Homo sapiens: one gene and its partners. The protein of the gene in region 1 purifies or fractionates together with the protein of each later gene. This does not show direct contact. Each region holds a gene or a part of one and is shown in the gene's direction. Other genes may lie near its edges.

Region 1 (4,234 bases):
TCAGTTAGTACTGTACCTCATTTTTCCTCTACTCTTTTTCAGTTTGTAGACTTGGTGGCTCCTGCCTCCTCCCCTCCCTGGCTCAGTGAGGACGACCCCCGCCACTGGCTCTACTTTCCAGCTGATCACAGCTATTTACCTGTCCCAGTCTTGAGTAAGGCACAAAATATTTACAGAAAACAGATGTCTTTCAGAGGACTTGCTGCTAAGTGTAATAGTGAAGATTACTTGCATTACTGCTACTTTCCAATCAATTAAAAAAAAGAAATAGAAAACTTTGTATTACAAAGAGATCACAACACGAACGCATTGTTTAAAGCCTCTCCTTTATCCACTTTTTTGCTTGTCTCCCTAAACCATCTGTGATGCTAGCTGAGACTCGAATTTACATAAGAGCCAGAAACCATCAACCCAACCTCTTCACACACTAACGTCTACATTCAATCTCTTTAAAAAAGACTTAAATTTTGGCTCATGTGGGAGGTGGTGGTAGTGGTGGAGACTTAATAAAAGGTGGTTTTGTCTTCCTGAAGTGGAAATATAGCGCCGTCAACATCTTTTCCCCATCTGCCTGTTTCCTCCTTCCCTTTCTGTTTAAGGAAAGTCTAACCACCGCACTTCTCCCCACCTCCCCGCACCTCCCCCCAGGCAAACGCAAGCAACTGAACCGCCTATGATGTCATAATCACAATCCCATTACCTCATCCTGCTGGGGGGGAGGGGGCGGAGAGAGAAGAGAGGGAGTGAACAGCCCTGGGCTATCCTGAGCTTTACAAAGTGTTCTGGGTGAGGGCAAATTACAGAACCAAGTGGAAACGTCCCCGCAACCATTATAAGTCCTGGGTTTTTAAGGTTCAGGCCGATCCGGCAGCTGCAAGAGGGGCTCCTGGGACTCCGAGCAGGCCCTAATCCGCGCTTGGACCACACTTCCCAGCAGCCTTCACGCCGCGGACGGGTCCTTTGCTGGGGGAAGGGGGATTCCTTCGAAGAGGTGGTCGTGGAGGGCGGGGCAGCAGAGCAGGTGAGGGGCACTGTGGCTAATTGCGTGACGCGGCCCGAACCGAGTGGGAGGCTGCAGTTGGGCCGTTGGAGGGAGGGAGGGCAGGGGCGATGCCTTTGTTTACCTTCTTCCGACATGGCCTCCCCCGCGGGTTTCAAGATGTGCCTCCAACTGGGGCCGTCCACTTTCTGCGATATTTTGGAGGGGGTGACTCGTTAGTGAGGAAACCACCCCCATCCCTAAATCAAAGCGCCAGGCTCGTTCCCAACAGCGCTGTCCGAGAGACACTTTGAGAGAGACACGACACGGAGCTGCGCCCTCCATGGGTGGCTTGGGGGGATTCTGCGAGCCGGAGCTGTCCCCCTACTCTCCTCAGGGACTCGTTGGTTCGCGCCAGCGCCTTTTAAGGGCACCGTGGGGCGAACCGAGCGCTCAGAGCTGCTCCGGCCGCGGCCCTGGGAGCTGGAGGAACCGCGGTAGGTGGTGGAGGGCAGGTGGCGCTGGGGCCTCGGGGCGGGCACCTCAACCGTCCCTCCCTCCTTCCCTCTTTCCCCTCCCCCAGCCCGACCGCCCGCGCGGCCGGGCCTCGCTGGCCGCCTCTGCGGGGAGAGCACGGGACCCGGTGGGGGAGGGGGTGGCGGAGTGCTAAGTCCCAGACCCTCCCCATCCCCTGCGTCCTGAGTTCGCTTCCCGCGGCCAGATGATGGAACCTAGTGGGAAGAGGCGAACGACAGCCCCCCTGAGCGAGCCCTGGCGCACCCCCCCCCCCGCCCCGGGGACCAGCGGACGCCCCATGCCCCACCCCGCGGGGACAGGCAGGGCAACAGAGGGAGAGGTTGAAGATTGGAGGGGCCTAGCCTTTTGCTTCTTCATGGGGGTGGGGGGAGGGGTGTTCCCCACTTGTCACCCCTTTCCCCACCAGAACCATATGGAAGAAGAGCAGGCAGATCTCCACCTACCTGTTCATGCAGCTCCCTGCCTTCCTCATGTTTTTCTTCAGTCTCCCCAGGAGGTGTGGGGCTGGGACCTGAGGGGAAGGTCCCCAAAGGGTTTGTGACTCTCCTCCCTGTTGGCCTGACCTGATCCTACCTTGTCTTGGTACAGCACAACCTCAGCATCCCTGAAACAGGAGTGTCAGGGGTTACTGCCATCCAATAGGAGATGGGGTGGGGGTCTGATCTTTATTTTTGGGGGCTGCTGGTGGAGGGAAAGCCTGGACTGAGAGTTAGGTCTGGTGGGGTTGCTGAGAGGGCCTAGCGGCCTGCTGCTCTGTGAAGGGCTGAGCCCCGTGCCAGTTGTTAAACTGAGAAGTTTTAACTTGTTTAGTGAATATTCAGGGCTGTCTCTACCCTTCAGATACACAAAATGGAAGGGGAAGGAAGGCGGCAAGAGAGGGCTTCTTACACTTTTTTCAATGCCTGCTTGAGAAAGAGGAGGCCCCTCGCGGAGCTGGTTTGCCTTCTTTTGTGTCCTGGTTTGATTCCTTATGGCTTCCGTTCTGTTCCCCCTCGCAGCCTGGCCTGTTTTAGGAAACTCAGGCTGAGAGTATCAGTTGCGTGGTGGTAGTTGCATTGTTCCAATTACCACTGTGTGTGGCCACATCCCAACAATTAAAATGCAGAAAAACACAAATTCACTGTCTTGACTTGATCCTAGAGGTGGCTGGGAGTTTGCTGTTTGTCCAAATGCCTCATGAAAAGCTGGAGAGTTTGCTTCATTCCCTGCTCCTCATAGCTGGTTAGCCTGAGGCCTGGGGTCTCTAGGGTAAAATCCTGCACTTAGGTTCCCTCTCTGGTTGATCTTTGAGGGCAGCAGAGTTAAGAAACCAAGAGCAGAAGTGATATAAGCTTTAGCTTCTCCCGTAAGAATATAGGGGAAGCAGCTGAAGAGAGCTCCCCGGAAGCTAGAATTTTGTTCAGGGTGGTAATAATTATGCATGAAAATGATAGTTAACTGTAATGATGATTGACTTCTCTTGCACCTTTCTTCCAGAGAACTCCAGGTACATCCAGGTTTATCTCTTTGCTCTTCCTTGTGCCCTCCTTCTAAGGTGTGAGTGGGGTAGAGATAATTCCTCTTTTTTGTAGAGTGATCTGCCCCCAAGGTCACAGAAGGAAGAGCCCTCTTGGGCTTTTCTTAGTGTGCAGGTGAGGGAGGATGGTATTCAGCCAGAGAGATGGACCCTATTGCCTTCTTCATCTTATTGATTTCATTACTTCTGACATTCTGAGGCCTTGAAGATTCACAAACGGGAACGAGAAATGGTAGTCTGTGTGGACTCCTGATTTTTATAGGTCAGATGGTACATTTTGTACATTTTAATATGTTATATTGTTCCTGTGACAGGTTAAGATTATTCTGCCCACTTTACATATGGGTAAACTGAGGCCAAGGAGTATTAAATGATTTGTCAAAACTCTTAGCAAATTGGATTAATAATTAGATTTCTTGATGATTTGTTCTCTTGACTAGCTAATGCTACACACATTCTCTGGTAAGCTGTCAGCTTGCTGCTCATTTCCGGGAATAGATAGAACAAAATCAAGACACTGGCTTAACCTCCCCTTTTCCCTTGAGCAAGGCCCCTCAGGTAATTGTGTGGGCTTGAAGCCTGTTATCTGATACAGTTAGTTTGCTTCTATCAGAAGTTGACCACGAGAAAGAATCTTGGTTAACTGTATCCATGGACTTTGCATCAGATGAGGCTAAAAACTTAGTTGAACAGTCATGGAGTTGTTGTTTACGACGTCTGTAGAGTTGAAATGTATTGGAATTACCCTGACCATTTCTTTATCTTCCCATTTGATAAGAAAACAAACACTGTATCTATTGGAAAACAATAATATATCAGATGTTTAGGCTGTGGGAGGACATAAAATCCTATGTACTCAGGTCTAAAGCAGAAAGTCTTGCCTACAACCACTGTTCTTCCTTGTTCTCTTATTACTATTTCTGTAGTTTAGGAGAAGGGTACCTCTTTTCACTTCTGACTGGAAGATAAAATACTGGGCTGATCTTGATGGAAATAATCATTTGGGCATCCCTCTCTCTCACTTGAGCAGCTGTTTTCTAAGTGGTGCTGGTATTCCAGTTAGAAACAACAGAGCATGAACCAGTTTAAGGGTAGCAAATAAGTTTCAACTTGATTGCCAACTCTATTTTATTTCATATCTGGACTGCCAAGTTCATAATTTCTGAAGCTGTGTTTAGGCTTAGCTGGAAAGAGCTGTGATC
Region 2 (2,399 bases), on another chromosome or scaffold:
GGTGGCTCTTGGTAGTGGGAGAACCTCCTGGAGGTGGGATGACAGAGGTGGAGCTTCAGGGCCAGAAGGTGGCTCTGCTGGAGGGGAAGCGGAAGCATCGGAGAGATAAGCAGGCCTTCGGAGGTGGGGATGTGGCCTGTCAGAGGGGGTGGAGCTTGTTCTGCATGGTCCCACGAAGAGGAAGGGGCAGTCCTTGTCTCCCGGGACCCACCAAGAGTCTTTGCTGGAGAAGAGAGCTTGTGAGGTTGCATCCTGGCCATGCCAATCAATGTGGAACGGGCAGTCCAGGTTTAGCTGAGGCTGGACATGGCCCACAGTGTGGAAACGATGTGCTCAACAGAAGAGGGCCAAGGCCTAGCAGGAATGGCCCTCCAGAGGGGTAGATCTTATAGATGGGAGGAATGCAATGGGCTGGATAGTGTGAGCCACAGCAAGGGTTACTGGCCAACACGAGGTGTGATGCAAGCTAATGATGATATCATTAAGTGCCAGGTCCTGGCTGTGTTAACTCATTCATTCCTCACACCATCTCTATGATGTAGGAATTATTATCATCCCCATTTGGGGAAAATGAGACACAGGGAGGTTAAGAAACTTGGCGAAGTTCGCCGGGCGTGGTGGTTCATGACTGTAATCCCAGCACTTTGGGAGATCGAGGCGGATGGATCACCTGAGGTCAGAAGTTTGAGACCAGCTTGGCCAACGTGGCGAAACCCCATCTCTACTAAAAATACAAAAATTAGCCAGGTGTGGTGGTGGGTGCCTGTAATCTCAGCTGTCCGGGAGGCTGAGGCAGGAGAATCACTTGAACCCGGAAGGCAGAGATTGCAGTGAGCCGAGATCGCGTCATTGTACTCCAGCCTGGGTGACACAGCGAGAGTCTGTCTCAAACAAAACAAAATGAAACAAAAGAGAAACTTGCCTGAGGTCACAGAGCAAGCAAGTGGCAGAGGAGAGACTCAAACCCGGGCAATCTGGCCCCCAGCCTTTGTCATCTTAACCACTTCTCTACACTAGTCTTCATTCGAGGGGAGGGGCCTACAGCAAGAAAGGAATATGGTGTGTGCTTGGCTACGTTTGACCCCTTTACGGAAGAAACTTACCTGGTAGCGTGATTTGGTGACTTCTGGTGGCACATGAACATATGAGGTGGTTGCCTTTAATATCTGGACAAGGAGCAGGGCCTGTAGTCTGGATGTGGCCTATACACAGTAGGGGAACCATCCTTAGTGGGCCATTGTGGGGTGTGCCTGGAAGCCACATTTCATTTGGTTGGGGAATGGCCTGTAGCAATGTCAGGGAACATGTAGTTAAGGGACTTGGAAACTGTTCCAGGACATAGACAAAGCTAGATGGTTTTTTTTTTTTTTTTTTTTTTTTTTTTTGGTTTGTTTGTTTTTTGAGACAGAGTCTCGGTCTTGCGGTCTTGTAGCCCAAGCTAGAGTGCAATGATGTGGTCTCGGCTCACTGCAACCTCCACCTCCCGGGTTCAAGCGATTTTCCTGCCTCAGCCTCCCGAGTAGCTAGGATTACAGGTGCCTGCCACCACGCCTGGCTAATTTTTGTATTTTTAATAGAGACAGGGTTACCATGTTGGCCAGGCCAGTCTTGAACTCCTAACCTCAGGTGATCCACCCTTCTTAGCCTTCCAAAGTGTTGGGATTACAGGCGTGAGCCACTGCAGCCGGCCAAAGCTAGATGTTTTACCCAAAGGTGCTGCATGCAGATAAGGGGGAGCGACCTGCATCATGGTTTTCCCTGAAAGGCAGGAATATGTATAAAAGAGGAACTAGAAGAGCATCCATTGTTCCAGTAGGAATATGACAGGCGCTGTGAGCTGACCTTAGTGTCCACCTGAGTGGGGGATGGGGCATGCAGAAAAGGGGAGGTGGCCAGTAGCGTTGGCCCAGTTTTGGGGTAGAAATGCCTAGATGAAGGACCTTGAATGGCAGTTGTCCTAGCAAGAGTGAGACATAGCTAGGGAGCATGTCCCTTGAGGGCAGGGCTTAAAAGCCATAGCACTTCTCCCCTGCAGGGGCCGGGATATGCAGAGGAGGTAATACGAATGATAGATATATTGTCCCAGTGGGTGATGGGACACAGCCAGGAGGTGGGTCTGAGGGCGGGGCATACAGATGAGGGGTGTGAAAGGGTGGGAATATGTTGATGGAGGCGGGGCTTGAATTGCTGCTGTTGTCTCAGTAGCGGCTGAGACTTCGATAGCAGGGTTTAGTCCCCACTGTTCACCATGGGCGGGGCATAAAGCGAAGGGGCGTGGTTCGGGGGGACTAACCCCGCCCTGAACCCGCCCCCTCCTACAGGATGATCCCGTCCACCAGTCAGACCTTCCTGGTGAATGACCTGGCGGCGGGCCGTGCCTACGACTTGTGCGTGCTGGC
Region 3 (2,617 bases), on another chromosome or scaffold:
TCCCAGAACGCCTCGGACAAGCTGAAGAAGTTCACAGAATGGGTCTTCAACACCATAGACATGAGCTAGGGAAGGCTGAGGAGGACAGGAGAAGGGCCCAGACACTCCCTCCAGTGAGTGTCCTGCAGCCCTTATTCCCTCCATAGAAAGCATCCTCAGAGCACCTTCCCTGGCTTCCTACTCTGCCCCCTTTCGGGGAGTGCACAACACAATAGTTGCAGATCAACAATCATCACCTGCCTTTTGTAGAAAAGAAAAACAAAAAAAGTAAATAAAAATTTTAAACAGTAAAATAAAAGTTTAACTGCTAAAATGTGAATGTCTTTATTTTTTTGCACAATATCTTTATCTGTTATGTATTTAAGAAGAAACTGGGCCTTGGACCAGGGCGCCCCCTGGCCCATCCGCCTCTATTCCCATCAGCTTTCTTATCAACTTCAGGTAACCCAAGCTTTCCCTTGTTATTCTAACAAATATCATTATTCCTAGAAAAAGAATGTTTTTATAACTTGTTTGGGGAGTAGAGAGGGATATTTCCTTACCTTCTTCCCTAAAATGCCTGGAGAGGGAGTTGCTTTGAGAAAATGCCTACCTCCCTTGAATGACTCGTGCATGAGCTAGTGCTGTCTGTACCTGTCCTCCAGAGATCAGCAGGACCGGAGTTAAATATTTAACAGCAAGTCTGTAAACCAGAGCAGCTCTGACAGTGCCTGCAGGCCACACCCCTTCTCAGTCCTGCATTGTGAGGTCATTTCCTGCTTCTCCCTTTCCCCAGGAAGATGGTCCCACTTGTGCTGCAAGACTCTTTTTTGTTTGGCTTAATTGAGCCCCACTAAATTGGAATCAATCTCTCTTACAGCTTCCTGGCTCCAAACATTAATTGATTTCAGAATTCCCCCAAACTAAAACCTTATCTGTCTGCATTTTGAATGCATTTTGGTCAAAAGTATACGTTTTAAAGATTTTTAAAGATAAAAATGTGGCACAACTGGTTTTTTTAGCTTGCTGAAAATGACCATATCTCTAAATTAATCTTTCTCTCCAGAGCAAGACTTCACCAGTATTTGTAACTAGGAGAAGCTAACAGTGAATGTTTAATTGTGAATTTTAATCATTGCTTGTTAGGAATAATGACTGTGATACTAGAATGGGCTTTTGAAACCTGCATGTCCCAGTGTGAAATTTCAGCACGGCATTTTCTGCATCCTTTCATGGCCATCCAAAGGATTCCGCTGCAGAAATTATTGATGTGCTATTTTTGCTGTCTTGTGATGCAGGCTGCTTTGGGCCCCTGGGTCACTCTTCCAAGGCTGCTGTAGAGCACAGAGACATGGGGCTGGCCAGTGTTGACTGACCTGAGGAGACCCCTTTGTTTGTTGCCTTCATAACTGTCACTAAACCGACCCCTCTGCCCTTTCAGTGGCAACTCTGGTCTAAGGGAACATTCAGCACTCTAGCGGCATCTGATTGGAAGTTCCCTCACCCAAGTAATCTCAATTCCTTCCTCTCTCCATCCCTGAAAGAAACAGGATGGATTTTCCTCTCTTCTCCCTGCTACATTCACTACCAGATTTTTATGCTACAGTTTCATTCTTGATTGTGATTTCTCCATGGAATTTTTTTTTTCTGGTGACATTTCTATCATGGAAATAGGAAGATTTCGGAGTGCTTTGTGAAGATTTCAATTGTCTGTCTCTTTCTCTCTTTGACTTGTATGAAGGAGATTGTACATTGCCTGATATCTCTTTGTAAATGAGAAATATTGCTAACATCCAAGCATTCTGAAGTCTTGCTTATCCTTCTGAGTTTAGTTCTCATTTTGTTTTACATTTTGTTTGGGGACTTGGGGCAAGCTATTTATTAGAGTTTTGCAACAGAGTTCTTGTTTGAAGCCTCTAAAGACTACCTGTAAAATTCAAAGAATAAAATTCATTTTAAACGCTCTTTTAAAACACTTTGGTATTATTGCTTGAGGTTTGCTTATTTGAAAGACCACCCAATAACTCATTGACCCTCCTTGCATCCGAATTTTTTCATCAAGCTTTGTTAACACTAATGATGATTCTTGAAAATTTCTGTCCTTCTCAGAATGTTAATAAACTTTTTTACTCTGTCCACATGTCGATAGAGAATTACTATTTTGCCTTCTCTGCTTATGATTTAATATTTGCAGAGCACTTCATAATTAGCTTCCCCTTCATTATCCACGCATGGATTTTTCATAACATTGTTATTCTCTGAGACCAGCACATTTTTGGGCTGCATCTCCCAGCTCTCAATGTCAGATGTTGTGTGCCCAGGGAATACAAATGCCTGTTAATATTAGGCTGTGCAAAATATAATTAGAAAAGTTAATCTACTGAAAAAAAAATCAGTGCATTCCAAAGTCAAACCGAACCAATTTTTTTTTAATCTACCACGTCACTGTTCCTCTCCAGCGGCGCAGCTAATTGAGTGCTGACAGTAGAGTTTCTTCCTTTTATTTGGTTCAACAGTTCTACAGATTCCAGAGTTCTTGGACTAGCATAAGAATGGATGCCACAAAATATTCCAATTAACAAGCTAAAAAGGTCTGTTTAGACCATGATTCCTACATGGTTCGGAGGGCTTATACGTT
Region 4 (3,500 bases), on another chromosome or scaffold:
GTCTTTAAATCTGATTATCCAGCAGAGGAGCCTCACATTTACAGCTCAGATTAAACACATATTTCTTCTGATCATTGTTGCTTGAACCAAACCAGCAACGCCTTCTCAGTGTAACTGGAGAACTTTCTTATGCTTTTAAACATTTTCAGGGTGCTTTATCTAAGAAGATATTTTTAAAAAGTGTTTATTTTCTCTTTTAACAAACTCACTCCATGTTGCTATGTTCTTTAAAACTGCTCCCTCTTCTAATTTAATATATTTTTAAAGTTTTTGTTGAAATGTAAACTGCTCTCTGTATCTTTGTTTTGCTTTTAGTTATTAGCTTAGTATAGAAACTTATAAATAATCAGACAATTGCATATCTTCAGTTAGCACAGAATTCTGACAGAGGCTAGCTTTGCCAGCTCAGTTACATGCTGTGTGTCTCACTGGGGAGTGTTAGGGCATTCTCACATTGACATGGACCCAACGTGGTGTCCACTGGTAACTGTTCAATATAAGACCTGCTTACCGATTTCTAGTAATTTTGTTTTTGAATTTTTCTTTCAGGCTTACTGCACGATTAGGGTATGTAGCCTCAGGTCATTTTCACTCACATAGCAGGTTTGTATTTGAGATCACTTTGATCTCTATCTTCTAATTTGATCTTCAGAAAAACCTAATGAGGTTTTGTTTTATAGATAAATAAACTACCACCCAGAAATCTGAGGGACTTGTCCAAAGTCACATGCTTGGAGAGGCCAGGTCTTGAGCCCGAATTTCCAGTTCTCTCTTCCCACTATCATGTGCAGGTCATCACTCCATGAAAACTCCCAAAACACTGCTGTTTCTATAGTACCCAAATATGCCTTTCTCAGGATTTAAGAAAATATCAAAAATACATATAAGTTTTTGATATTTACTTAAATCCTGAGGAAGGCATAGCTGAGACAAGTCATGATCTGCCAGGTGAATAGAAATGGGGTTGGTTAAACTTGCACTATTCATACAACTTCTAGTGAGGCATAATGTGTATGTATACACATTAGAGAATATTTTAAGAACATCTGCAAAACAAGTGTTCAGTAACATGTATAACTGCTCTTTTTAACTTTTGAAGGCCTGCTTCAGTTATTTTTATGTGACTACTTATTCTTTGGCCTTGGATGCTTGCACTGTGAATTTAAAAATAATACAAGGACTTAGATAAAAGTCAATGGGCTGTGTTAGATTAGGCCTCGGTCATTTTACCTACAATTATGAAGGTCTTTCAGCATTTTTACCTATTCCTAGTTACAAAAACTTATTAACACAGAAAAAAAGCCATTACAAAATCTTTAATTTCAAAAGGCTTTGACCTAACTTTATGAAATATGTATTTAGAATTCGTCATTTTACAATTTGTTGTCTCTTGGTTCATGTTTTTCTTTTTTGTGTGTGTGATCTACATCTACTTAATAGTCTGATTATTTTCATTAAAAGATTTCCTGCTAAGGAGTCACTTTTAATAAACATTTACTTATATTTATTTTAGAGCCCATTTTTGAAGCTGTAGTTTGTATGTTGAACACTTCTAAAACCTCTTACTTATGAACAAGTATGAATTGACCTTATAGTATGTGTGGATCACTGTGATTGGCACTATATAGATGAGAGAAAGGAAGGGTGATTATTTGCTTGCTTTTGGAACTTTACTGGGCTTTACAAAATCTTTAGCATCAACTCTCATCAAATTCGTAAATTATATGACTATTTTAAGATGCTGTATTCTGATTCATTCTTAGTGTTTAAATTATCTCAGGTAGCAAATGGAGGTACTTCCAATTTTGAAATTTTCTGCAGATTTAAGTATCTCTAATTCCCAAAGAATATTTTCTATTTTAAATTCACTTTCACACTTCTCTAAGGTCTTTTCAAGTAGATCAGCATTTCTATCACCGACCTTAAGATGAGGAAATGGAGGAATAATGTTTTGTTTTGTTTTTCCAGGATGTGGATCTGTTGCTGACAGTGCCAGATTAGCAATCAGAAATCTTTCTTTTTCCCTAATTATTAATCACACTTCCATTGTTTGAAAAGTCAGGGCTAGCTCTTGCCCCTAAGCAGAAAAGGCAAAAGAGAGGATAAGTAGGAAAAAAGAAATGGGCATATTTTAGTATAAATTTAAATATATTTCTCTCTTCCTTAGGAGAGAGTTATGTATGTGGCTCCATAGAGCCCTTCAAGAAACTGGAGTACACCAAGAATGTGAACCCCAACTGGTCGGTGAACGTCAAGACCACCTCGGCTTCTCGGGCAGTGTCTTCACTGGCCACTGCCAAAGGAAGCCCTTCAGAGGTGCGAGAGAATAAGGATTTCATTCGGCCCAAGCTGGTCACCATCATCAGAAGTGGCGTGAAGCCACGGAAAGCTGTCAGGATTCTGCTGAACAAGAAAACGGCTCATTCCTTTGAGCAGGTCCTCACCGATATCACCGATGCCATCAAGCTGGACTCGGGAGTGGTGAAACGCCTGTACACGTTGGATGGGAAACAGGTAAGAGACATATTGTGATGTGACTTTGACTTTAAGGCAAGAACCAGGGAGTCGGAGGGTGTACGTGGCTAAAGCATACATTTTGCTCAAGTTGTTAAAGGGCCTGGGTCACTTGATCAACAAATATGTACTTGCTGGCCCTAGAACAGTCAGAAGTTTGAGTTGAGCAGGATTATTCATAGGAATAAAGTAAGAAAAAAATGCATATCTTTGAAGATTAAATAATTACTCAGTGATTTCTACTTGTTCATTTATTATTTGCTTAACATAATGATTCTTTTCTGTCATCTGTTTTCAGTTTTCTCATAGATCTTATAGCCTGAAGAATGAATGACTGAGGTGTGAAAGTAAACTCTGACCAGTAGGGAAAATTCTAACTTATTTCTTTGACCTAAATATTTTATGATTTTAAGTCTTTGTAGTGTTCGCTAGTGAGATTTACTTACATTTTATAGATTTTAAAATATGTATCTAAGAAATGACATATTTCCATCTGGATAGCTTTAAAGGCATATTTCTAGAATAGTACGCATCTTGTATTTTTCAGTGTTAAAATGAAAGGGAGGTTTTTCAGCTACAGAATGAACATCAGTTGACTTGGATGGGTGGTCATTTTAATGTGAGTTGGTCAGATGAACCCAAAGGAAGCATCACCTTTTATTGTCTTGGGTGGACTATTTTTGTACAGGTTTGACAGAACCTTGATGGTGAGTTGAATTAAAAAACATTGATTAGGGCCGGGCACGGTGGCTCACGCCTGTAATCCCAGCACTTTGGGAGGCCGAGGCAGGCGGATCACGAGGTCAGGAGATCGAGACCATCCTGGCTAACAGGGTGAAACCCCGTCTCTACTCAAAATAAAAAAAAAAAATTACCTGGGTGTGGTGGTGGGCGCCTGTAGTCCCAGCTACTCAGGGGGCTGAGGCAGGAGAATGGCGTGAACCCGGGAGGCGGAGCTTGCAGTGAGCCGAGATCGCACCACTGCA
Region 5 (4,105 bases), about 78 Mb from region 1:
GTTCTAATACTTGCCTTGGTCTCTCCTTTTGCCTTATGCCCCTCAGTCGAACTCTTTCTTCTGAGGAGTCAAGAATTGAGGTTGCTGCAGATCTGTAGGAATTCACTGCCTGTAACATACTTTGGGGCCGTGTCTCGGATATGGGCAGCTGCTAACATATTTTGGTGCCCTGTGACTCGAGTTAACTTCCACAGCTCACAAAGGCAGTAACATTTTCTAGGGAGTCACTAGAAGATATATGTAAAAAATCTCCTATATCTCCTAGTGGAAGATAGGGTTACTTCGTTAAGAATGTTTATTCAGGTCCACTGCAGCCTTCAATTCCAAGCCTTTGGTGATAAAGGCTATTTTCTCACCGTGGTAGGGAGAGGATGCCCATCCCAGAGAAATCTTTGTGGCCTGCTGCATCGAAGAGGCAGGTCAGCTTGCCCTTTCTGAAACTACCATTTCTCCAATGTTTTCCGCTCGAAATAATCAATATACCAATTAGGCATATTTTGGAATGGCACACCTTCACTCCTTCAACGTCTTGTCCTGGGTACTTACCGAGATGACCAAATTTGAGTAGGTGTACAGAGTCCTAAGTATATGGAGTTACTTCATTTGTCCCTCTGAAAGATTGCAAATCGGACTAGCAATTCCCAGGGGGAAAATTCTAAGCAGTCAAAAAAGGACTCACAACCCTATTGCCGAGGACTAAAAGTATCAGCCCAATACAAAACATAGAACTCAAATTAAAGGGGAAAAGACTATCATGAGAACAAACAGAAGAGGAATCGGGGCTCCCTTCCCGCTCTTTATTGCCCTTAACACACTGTCTACGCTCCTTGTGCTCTCTATCCCGTTTTTAAATGTCCCTACACTGGTAAAAGCTGTCGCCTCGCTTCATTTCACTACCGCTTCTCCCAGCGTTAGCAGCACCTCCAGGCTCACAGTGCACTTGGTAGGGAGGACAGGTATTTATCCACGCGGCCCAAAGCTGGGTTTCGGTCGCTGGATAACACCTATTATTGACCCTTTTGTAGAGATAGCGTTGCGTGTGTTTGTGTTGCGCGGACGCAGAAATCTGGGAAGGGCGCTGCACAGCGTTTTCCAGCGCTGGGGAGACGCCCCCGGCCCCTTAGTCGCACCTGCCTAGGTGTGCTCGCACGGTGGGACCAGGGTGGGCAACAGATTTCGCCCCGGGCAAGTTCGCACGCGGAGCTCCCAGCGCCGCGGGTCTCGGAGAAGACGCCTGCCTCCCCGCGCATTTCCGGTGACGTGCTGCCGCGCCGCCCAATCAGCGCCCGCAGCCCGCGGGCTTGGGATTCAAACTGCTGCTCCTCCGGCTGGCGGGGATCAGCGCTGGCGCGGCTGCGGCCGCTGCTGCCTACGCGCCATGGAGCATCGCATCGTGGGGCCCGGGCCGTACCGAGCTACCAGGCTGGTGAGTGAGTGTGCTGGGGCCTGGGCGGAGCACCCGGTGCCGCGAGCCCCCACTCAGCGCGCGGACAGAGTGCTTGTCAGTCTTCGCTTCCGCAGGCCAGCGGGGCTCGGGTGTGGAGCATTTCAGCTGGGACTACTGGGGCTGCCTTTTAGTGGACGAGCCTCAAAGAAAGGCTAACGGGGCCCAGAGCTCAGCCGGCCGGGGGTTAGTGCAGCTTTGTCCATGAGATGTTGACTGGGTTCTCGGCAGTAGATGGCGCCTCTCTGTTTAAAGACCCCAAGACCAGGCTGTTCCCTGCCTTTTGTCCTCTGGAATCTAACCGACCCGGTCGGTAACCTGAGGGGCCACCACGTACCCCGTAACGCTCAGCGTTCGCGGCAGTCCAGGCAGGGCGTGTCTCCTTCCTGAGTGACACCTGATGATACCTGACGGGGTATTCGAATAAACGGTGCCCAGAACAGAGGGGCATCGCGCTGGCCGCATTTCCGGCCCCTGGCGTTTCTGTTTCTGTCAGCACCGATCCAGATGAAGAGCTGGCCAGGACAGATGTTTTAGGAGAGTCTTTGCCGACTCTGAGTTCCTGTTTTTTTTTTTTTTTTTTTCTGGGAGAAAAGCTTTGGTATTGAGGTGTACTTGGTCTGCTTTGACTTGGAACAATAAAGGGTGACAGTTTGGTAATGTCTGTGGCAAGTTTTTAGAGGACTTTCTGTGGAAGTGTAATGGTAATTTGGGAGGACAGTAACTTGCTCCTTGGTCTGCCGACCTCTCTGGCCACATTTAACATGGGAATTACTCTCATAGTTCCATGCATTATAATGAATACACAGGAAAAGATGGGAACTAACATCCAAACTCTTACTCAGCTAGACTCATGGAAGAGGTGAGGATGCTGGGATACAGATAATGTAAATAGAGTTTCCTTTTCTTTCCAAAGCCAGCCACACACTATACCAGTAAGTCAAGCCAGAGCTGAGAAGGCCAGCTTCTGGAAGAGAAATCATAGTTGGGGCTGATGGGTCTTTACTTTTTAAATTTGGCTCATAGATCGCTTTGAGAATCTGATGAAGATTAAGGATCTTCTTCACAGAAAACTGCACATGGCACATACTCATGAAATTTTACATGATTTAAGGGGATGGATCGCTTGAGGTCAGGAGTTCGAGACCAGCCTGGCCAACACAGCAAAACCCCGTCTGTACTAAAAATACAAAAATTAGCTGGGCATGGTGGCATGCGCCTATAGTCTCAGCTACTCAGGAGGCTGAGGCAGGAGAATCTCTTGAACCTGGGAGGCAGAGGTTGCAGTGAGCTGAGATCGCGCCATTGCACTCCAGCCTGGGCAACGAGCGAAACTCCATCTCAAAAAAAAAAAAAAATAATAAGGAGATTGGGAGAGTCTGTGACATTGTTTTATTTGGCATAAAGACAAGCATTTTATTTGCTCATCCTTTGGATCAGTAATCTGGGCTAGACTCATGTCAATGGTTCTTTTGTGGAGGTCACTCATGTGCCACAAATAATGTGACTTGGCTATTACTGGATGATGGAAGATGGCTGCTTGACTTGGTCCTGGCTGTTACCTGGGCCAGATATCTCTAACAGGTTATCGGAGGCATCTTCACGTAGTGGTCTCATGGTTCCAACGTAGCTAAAAGGAAGTTTCAGCTTGTGACTTTTTCTTCAAATCTCATTGGTCAAAGCAAGTTAAACAGCTAAATCCAGATTCTAGAAATTCAACTCCACTTCTTGATGGGCAGGGTGGCAAAGCCACAGAGGTGCATGTGGAGAGGATGGGAAGAATCATTGCACTCATCTTTGCGAACACTCTATACAGTATAGACACCAGAATGATCTGGGGTCAAGAATATTGATAAGTCTAACTTTAGGGAGGAAAATAAGGCATTTGATCATTCCCTTCACCAATTTATTTACAGCACTTACACAAGGAAAACATAGCAAGGCTGTGGTTCTTGACGTGACTAGTCTTCATTCTTCCTGCATTAGACTAAAAAAAAAATACCTCATAATTGGAATTGTATTTTAGTCTCATATTCACAGAATTGTATGAGGTACTTCTTTTCATGGATGCAGAGGGTCCATATATAGATAGTGCTGGATTCTTGAGTCACATTAAAATATTATCAAAGGAATTTGTTTAATTAAAAAAAGGTGCTCTCTGCTCTCTAGAAGTCTTCAGTCCCTAACAAATAATATTCAGGCTAAATTTAGGTTGATTAAGTTAAGAAGATAAATGACATGGATAATTAATGAAACAAACACCTCAGTTTCACCAGAATTTCCCAGGTAATCAATTCAGTTCTCAACTTCATAGTGTTTGAGGAACATAATATTAAACTAAGATGTGGAAAACAGAAAACAATAGCCAATTTTTTTTTTCAAAAGTGAGTATTCCTGCTGTCAGTGATTGCAGCCAACATTGAAGATGCTTCTTTCCATTGTAAAGTCTGTAATTGTTTCCCCAGTGTAATTCAGCTGTGACTTAAAGCTTTTGCTAGGTAAATCATATATTTAATAGTTTGAGACTAGTCCTCTTTTTACTTGTTGGACCTAGTTGGCCTTTCCTCCCTCTATCTGCAGCATACAATTTCTCCCTTTTCCCATCATGCTCATTCTAAACTTTCTTCAGGGGAAGCTTGGTAAAAATCTATTGGGATACAA
Region 6 (3,500 bases), on another chromosome or scaffold:
TCATTTTGGTGAGTTATTTGTCTTATAAACTCTGGGTGCTTCTGAGACACCAGTGCCTGTTTTTGGAATGATTTCATAAAACTTTCCAAGTTGAAGAGAGCCTGAGGGGAGGGTGAGGTTCAAATACGAGTTGTGAGGGTGGTAAGAGATGATGACAGCTACCATCTATTGAGTGTTTATCATCCGAAAGGCAGGGCTGACCACATGGCCTGCCACCCATGCAGTGCCACGGGGTCCACACTTGGTTTGATGCTGTGCTGTCACCATCTTGAAAATCTTAATTCTTTTTGAACTGGGGACCTTACATTTTCATTTTGCACTGGGTTTCACAAATTACGTAGCTGGTCCTGCTGAAAGACATTGTGTCTAGTGCTTTACAAATATTATGCCATTTAACCCTTGTAATGACCCAGTGAAATGAGCCATTTTTATTACTTTTATTTTACATATAAGAAAAATGAGGCTTCGTGAGTTTAAGCCACTTGGCTCAGTTCCCACAGCTATTTAGTGATAGAACCAGGATTCAAACCCATGTTTGCCTGCCTGCAAGTACTTGCCTATCAGGCTGTCTGAGTGAAGAATCCTGACTTAAAGAGAAGGAACTGAATAAGAGGTTGGGAGAGAGTGATTGGAATATAGGAACTGCTGAGCCTGAAAGCAGCTAATGTTTAAATGAGGCTGACAGTGGCAGCCACCAAACCTTCCTAGTGAGATCACTTTTGTTGCTCTTACTAGGGATTTAGTTACTACATGCATGATTGCTAATGCTCTGTTTTAGCAAACCTGTCACATACTTGATTTAAACAATTTAGAATGTTCAAGTTACCCAAGGCTGAGATTATGATGTTTCTCAGGAGCCTTCTGTTAACCGTTAGGAGCAATGTTTTTTTTCATTTGGTTAGTTATGAAGACATCTTGGTCTACAAGGACAAAGGCAGACAGGTTCAGAGTCTACAAAATAATGAAGCATATGGATAGGGCAAAGATGGACTGATCATTAGATCCTGAATTGCTAAAGCTCTGGGCTTCCTCTTGAAGCTTAAAAAATTGTTTCCATACAGATGATGAAATGTTATTTTAATTCAGTGAGTACTGATTTTAGGAAAGCTGTTGCTTCAAGATGGAATACAGGCTAAAATTGGTTCAGAAAAGATGGCAAATCTAGAAATCAGGAGAATATCTCTTGGGGTTCGGTACCACCGTGAGAAGAAACCTTGCCTCTTTCCCCAGACCTGCCTGTATGTTGGACATTTCTGCCATTTGTATTGTATTCCTATAAAATTCTCTGAAAATTACTTTCTGGGAATTGTCTGTGCTTTTGTAATTTCTATTTTATTTTATTTTATTTTATTTTATTTTTGAGATGGGTCTTGTTCTGACACCCAGACTAGAGTGCAGTTGCTCAATCATGGCTCACTGCAGGCTTAACCTTCCAGGCTCAAGTGATCCTCCCACCTCAGCCTCCAGAGTAGCTGGGAGTATCAGTGTGTGCCACCATGCCTGGCTAATTTTTTTCTTCTTTTTTTTTGGTAGAAACGGGATCTCAGTATGTTGCCCAGGCTGGTCTCCAACTCCTGGGTTTAAGGGACCCTCTTGCCTTGGCCTCCCAAAGTGCTGGGATTACAGGTGTGAGCCACTGTGCTCAGCCCCCTTTTGCAATTTAAAGAGCAAAATAATCTATAAATTTTAAAATGTATTTTATATATGTATAAACTGTATCTGGAAGGATGCTCAAGAAGTGGATAATTTTTGGGAAAGCAGCTTGGGGAAGTGGAAGTCAAGAGATGAAGGGAAGCATGTCTACACACTATACCTGTTGGTACTATTCAGATTTTTACCTCGTCACTATGTCTAGAAAATGGAAGAAATACAACTTGTAGGCACCATGTAAAACTGGACTAGAGGTAATTTTCAACCAAGTGTTCTTGGGGGAAAAAGGGAGCTTCAGTACTATATAGAAACTCAACACCACTCAAGGTCAGTGGAGGCGTTGGATGAAGAACAGGGGAAGTGGGAAGGCCCCATGGAAAGAGGCTTTAGGGGGAGAGGTTGGCAGGTGGTTTGCCCATGATAAACATCAAGATCTTGATAATGTTCTCCTTTCTTCTATCTCAGTTTAGCCATCTGGAAAATAAAACAATTTTTGCAATTTTCGCCATGATTATATCCTTTTAAAAAAGTGTATCATAAAAACTAAGTCTTTGTGAAAGTAACAACAGAAGTTCTGCTTGTTTAAAATGCAGAATTCCTATAAAGCCAAGTTATTTGTAAAATCATTTGGTGGTTATGCTAATACAGTTTTATATCTGGTTGGTTCTTCAAGTGAAACCACTGGTCCCAGACAGTGGTAGGTAGGGAGTTGGGGGAATATTCGACCTGCCTGGTGTCCAGATGGAAAGGCCATCTGGCTTCCATGTCTTACTGAGTGCTGAAAAGGAGTTGGCTGATCTCACAGACTGTGTGGTTTCCTGTTCCTCCCGCCTGGCCCGGAGAGTGATATGATTTCAATGCGATATTGAAGCTTTTGGTTTGATGTTCCACTTTGGAGTTAACTCCTAGGGTTGGCCCCAGGCCAGGTTCTGAAGGGGCACCCGGGTCCTCATTGGCTGAGAATGTTATTACTTATGGTCACATGACCTCCACAAGCTGAATAAATGTAGTGAGTTCTAACGGGAGACAGAATTGGGAAGTAAGTATAATTTTTCCAGACCCTTGTGGCACCTTTCAACATTCTCGCCCCTTTTGTGTTCCCCTCCTTTCTTAGACATCAAGTGTTCACTGTAATGTTCTCTTTCCAATTTCATCCCTTCAAATTTTGCTGTCAGGAAAGATTTGATAAGCTTTCACTAGAAATTTTAGTGTTAGTAAGATTTAACATGTTAACCCTAAATGGGCATTTATATTTAACAATAATTACTTCAGGTCAAAAGGGTGAATCTCCACTTGGAGAACCTAGGGCGATAGCCAGGTAGTAGTGGGCGAATATTTGGGGAATGGGAGAGGAACCCTCACTGCCCTCCATTATTTCATAATGTGGCTCTTATTCATAAGGCAGCCTTGTTTATGTGTTGCTAATTTGTCTATGATCTAGAGGATTTCCCTTGGCTTAGCAAAAAATCTTTGACGGATTATTTTACTGTCTCTGAAATTGTTCTCATGATAGTAACATTGGTTGGGAGGTGGTAGACATAGGCACAGTCCTGAAAGATGAGAGGGCAGTACAGAGTTTTATATTTGCCCTCCTTCTCGAATGATCCCTGAGTTACAGTGTTCATGGGAAACAGGGGTCTCTGATGTGACATTGCTTTTGCAGGAGTTATAAGATATAGCATCTAGATTAATAATTGAATTAATTACAGTGCTTGCAGCTAGAAGTAACTGAAAATGGATTCAGATCGGCTCATACAGTAAGTAAATTATCTCATGTTGCAAGAGGTTGTGAAATAGAGCCCCTGGCCGGGCGCGGTGGCTGACGCCTGTAATCCCAGCACTTTGGGGGG
Region 7 (3,500 bases), on another chromosome or scaffold:
TAAAACATCCATTTTTCTTTAAAGCCTGATAAATAATTTTAGGACTTCTTTAGAATCTAATTCTTGCTATCTGAAAACAAGATTAACATAAACATGAAATTAAAGTGAAGCAAAATGAATGTGTTCTTAGTGAAACAATTACTTATTAGGTCTTATAATAACTTTCAGAGGTGGATATGCTGGGTCAGTGTTTCTGGAAATTAAGCATAACAACCACCTGGAGTGCTTGTAAAGATACAGATTTCCAGCCTCTAATCCATACTTCCTGAATCAGAACCTCCAAGAGAGGTCTGAGAATCTAGGGAGGTTTTTTTCGTGTTTTCTTTTTTTTTGAGACAGGGTCTCACTCTGTCACCCAGGCTGGATGGAGTGCAGTGGTGTGATCTTGGCTCACTGCAGCCTCAACCTCCCCATGCTCACTCAGGTGATTCTCCCGCCTCAGCCTCCCGAGTAGCTGGGACTACAGGCACACGCTACCACACCTGGCTGATTTTTGTATTTTTTTGTAGAGACGGGGTTTCACCATGTTGCCCAGGCTGGTCTTGAACTCCTGGGTTCAAGTGATCCACATACCTTGGTCCCCCAAAGTGCTGGGATTACAGGTGTGAGCCACCACACCTGGCCTGAGAATGTTTTTTTCCTTTCTTTTTTCCCTTTCTTTCAAAACCTTGCATGATTCTTACAAAAAACAATTTTAGATAATGCTGGTCTAGATGATGTTCTTTCTTTTGAAGGTTTCAAGTGGATTTCTGTAGGCAAAATATTTTAATCCAGCTATTCATATTTCTTTGCCTTATTTCTAAAACACTTCAGGCCTGAGGACTTGCGCCGTGAGTTTGGTCGATATGGCCCTATAGTAGACGTTTACATTCCACTTGACTTCTACACTCGCCGCCCAAGAGGATTTGCTTATGTTCAATATCCTTTATTTTATTGTGTGCATGTGAATATACTGTATATGCGTGCTTATACATATATGTATTCAGTAGCATATGTTATGAGATTAATATTGCCTAATTAAATGTGTTTATTTCTTTATCTCAGAAGATCTAAAGCAGTCCACAGTAGCTGGCAAGCACCCCCCAGTTTGAACCAACCTGTTAGCTAGAATCCAAGCATAAACCCAGCAGGCGAGACAAAAGGCACCTAAAGTTCAAGCATCAAGGAGTAAAGAGGGAGGGTGGACACAGATATAAAGACCTGGAAGAGGGGAAGTCTTTATCAAGCAAAAGACAAAGCCAACACCAGGTTGAGACTTCGGCTTTCCTACATTTACTCAGAGTTCCAGAGTCAAAGCCAAGTCTGATTTTGTTGGTTCTGCGTCTCTTATAAAGTCCATCTTGCAAGCCTTAAAGAGTAAAGGTCAAGGTTCAAGATCAAGTGACATTGAGGTAATTGCCAGTCTCGTTTTATATTGTGTATCTTGAGCTTTTTCTGTTTGTTATTTTTTTAATTAAACCAGTGAACAACCTCCTAAAAAAAGTTACTTATTTTTATATAGCTAATTTCCATTATAGCTAGGTTTAATATTATATAATTTATATACATAAGGAAGTTTAGTGGGATATTACAAACCAGTATATGTAATTCCAGATATTTACAGATTGCTTTTATGTTTCTTTTATATTTATATCCCAAGTAGTAAAAACATAAATGTTTGGCTGGGTGCGGTGGCTCATGCCTGTAATCCCAGCACTTTGGGAGGCTGAGGCGGGTGGATCACCTCAGGTCAGGAGTTTGAGACCAGCCTGACCAACATGGTGAAACCCCGTGTCTACTAAAAATACAAAAATTAGCCGGGTGTGGTGCCGGGCACCTGTAGTCCCAGCTACTTGGAAGGCTGAGGCGGGAGAATCTCTTGAACCTGGGCTTACAGTGAGCTGAGATCGCGCCATTGCACTCCAGCCTGGGTGACAAGAGGGAAACTCCATCTCAAAAACAGAAAAAAACATAAACATTTAAAGTGGTAGGTTCAAAAGTAGATACCATTTTTAAAGCACTAAATCCGGTTTTGTTTTAACTCACTTGTATATGTGCAGTTTTGTTTATAAGTAATCTCTCTTAAATGTCAAATTTAAAATTAAGCCTTTTAATGAAAGAGTAATTTTAATTTCAGAATAAAGGCTTCTGCATGCTGATATTCAGTGAAAAATCTGATGGATCCTTTATCTGAAAGAAGGGAGTGAGTCCTAAACAGTTTGTAATTTTATAATGCTAGCCAAATTTGGACTTTTTTTTTGTTTTTCTTGTTTTCAAATTATACATGCATACTGCAGCCACACTATTGTAGACACTAAAAGTACAGTTACATGTTTGTTTTGTTCTTTTTATTTTTAGACTCACTCTTCTAAACATAATGGGTCATTTGTTTTCATGAGAAAAAGTGAAAGTTTTTTTTCTGATTATTCATATTATATTGAAGATGTGAGCTTAATAACTTGAACTTGATTTTCCTATTAATTTCATTTCACATGTAAATAATGCTTTTAAAATATGTTTACTTGATATCTCATGTTCAAAGTGTCCTTAACAGCTAGTCATATTTGAAGATGTTCGAGATGCTGAAGATGCTCTTTATAACCTCAATAGAAAGTGGGTATGTGGCCGTCAGATTGAAATACAGTTTGCACAAGGTGATCGCAAAAGTAAGTGTGACTGAATGCTAGATTTTATTTATTCAGCAGAATGAGTTTCAGTGATGACTGATTTTTTAATTTAAAATTCTTTCAGTAAATGATTGCTAGTTGAGTGGTTGTTACTGTGGTGTTCAGGTAACGAATTATGTCATAAGTCTTGTTCTTTATGTTCCAGCACCAGGCCAAATGAAATCAAAAGAACGTCATCCTTGTTCTCCAAGTGATCACAGGAGATCAAGAAGCCCCAGCCAAAGAAGAACTCGAAGTAGAAGTTCTTCATGGGGAAGAAATAGGAGGCGGTCAGACAGCCTTAAAGAGTGAGTATAAGAGGACTGAAAATTTCATTTTCTACTTTTTCTGGGAAATAGATATATATTTTTTTGATAGGGTCTCATTGTTTCCCAGGCTGGAGTGCAGTAGTGTGCGATCATGGCCCACTGTAGACTTGACCTCCTAGACTCAAGCAATTTTCTCACCTCAGCCTCCCAAGTAGCGGGTACTACAGGTGTGCACCACCACACTGGGCTAATTTTTTTAATTTTTTGTAGAGATTGGAGGTCTCGCTATGTTGCCCAGGCTGGTCTTAAATTCCTGGGCTCAAGTGTTCCTCCCACCTCAGGCTCCCAAAGTGCTAGGATTACAGGTGTGAGCCACTGCACCCAGCCTGGAAAATATTTTAAAGTTTTTATAAACAGTCCACCTTAGTCATTTTGCTTAATGTACAAACATAATCAATTTTTGTTAAAAGATAACACTCTTCTCTATTTATCATATATTGTTATTTAACTTGGGTTTATGGGATTAATTCTTCTGTTAAAGTTACAGACTTAACTTTATCTTTTTACATGAGAAGATAATATATAG

What was found.
Region 2: the proteins of FAM53C (region 1) and LRFN1 purify together in Homo sapiens (affinity purification with mass spectrometry, with the first as the bait; one large-scale study listed by BioGRID). This does not show direct contact.
Region 3: the proteins of FAM53C (region 1) and SIPA1L1 purify together in Homo sapiens (affinity purification with mass spectrometry, with the first as the bait; one large-scale study listed by BioGRID). This does not show direct contact.
Region 4: the proteins of FAM53C (region 1) and DCLK1 purify together in Homo sapiens (affinity purification with mass spectrometry, with the first as the bait; one large-scale study listed by BioGRID). This does not show direct contact.
Region 5: the proteins of FAM53C (region 1) and DEPDC1B purify together in Homo sapiens (affinity purification with mass spectrometry, with the first as the bait; one large-scale study listed by BioGRID). This does not show direct contact.
Region 6: the proteins of FAM53C (region 1) and CREB3L2 purify together in Homo sapiens (co-immunoprecipitation; one large-scale study listed by IntAct). This does not show direct contact.
Region 7: the proteins of FAM53C (region 1) and SRSF12 purify together in Homo sapiens (affinity purification with mass spectrometry, with the first as the bait; one large-scale study listed by BioGRID). This does not show direct contact.

What each region holds. Positions count from the first base shown.
Region 1 is NC_000005.10:138,336,832-138,341,065, forward strand, and holds the start of FAM53C (protein FAM53C), read left to right. Parts: upstream 1-1,434; 5' UTR 1,435-1,476; exon of another isoform or gene 1,477-1,524; intron 1,525-4,234. Other genes in the region: CDC25C (M-phase inducer phosphatase 3), read right to left, coding at 1,125-1,324.
Region 2 is NC_000019.10:39,308,465-39,310,863, reverse strand, and holds part of LRFN1 (leucine-rich repeat and fibronectin type III domain-containing protein 1 precursor), read left to right. Parts: intron 1-2,321; coding exon 2,322-2,399. UniProt on the Homo sapiens protein: Promotes neurite outgrowth in hippocampal neurons. Involved in the regulation and maintenance of excitatory synapses. Induces the clustering of excitatory postsynaptic proteins, including DLG4, DLGAP1, GRIA1 and GRIN1.
Region 3 is NC_000014.9:71,739,093-71,741,709, forward strand, and holds the end of SIPA1L1 (signal-induced proliferation-associated 1-like protein 1), read left to right. Parts: coding exon 1-69; 3' UTR 70-2,117; downstream 2,118-2,617.
Region 4 is NC_000013.11:36,110,883-36,114,382, reverse strand, and holds part of DCLK1 (serine/threonine-protein kinase DCLK1), read left to right. Parts: intron 1-2,167; coding exon 2,168-2,514; intron 2,515-3,500.
Region 5 is NC_000005.10:60,697,367-60,701,471, reverse strand, and holds the start of DEPDC1B (DEP domain-containing protein 1B), read left to right. Parts: upstream 1-1,305; 5' UTR 1,306-1,378; coding exon 1,379-1,426; intron 1,427-4,105.
Region 6 is NC_000007.14:137,995,587-137,999,086, reverse strand, and holds part of CREB3L2 (cyclic AMP-responsive element-binding protein 3-like protein 2), read left to right. Parts: intron 1-3,500. UniProt on the Homo sapiens protein: Transcription factor involved in unfolded protein response (UPR).
Region 7 is NC_000006.12:89,104,572-89,108,071, reverse strand, and holds part of SRSF12 (serine/arginine-rich splicing factor 12), read left to right. Parts: intron 1-813; coding exon 814-918; intron 919-1,044; exon of another isoform or gene 1,045-1,391; intron 1,392-2,116; exon of another isoform or gene 2,117-2,182; intron 2,183-2,521; exon of another isoform or gene 2,522-2,541; coding exon 2,542-2,645; intron 2,646-2,811; coding exon 2,812-2,953; intron 2,954-3,500. UniProt on the Homo sapiens protein: Splicing factor that seems to antagonize SR proteins in pre-mRNA splicing regulation.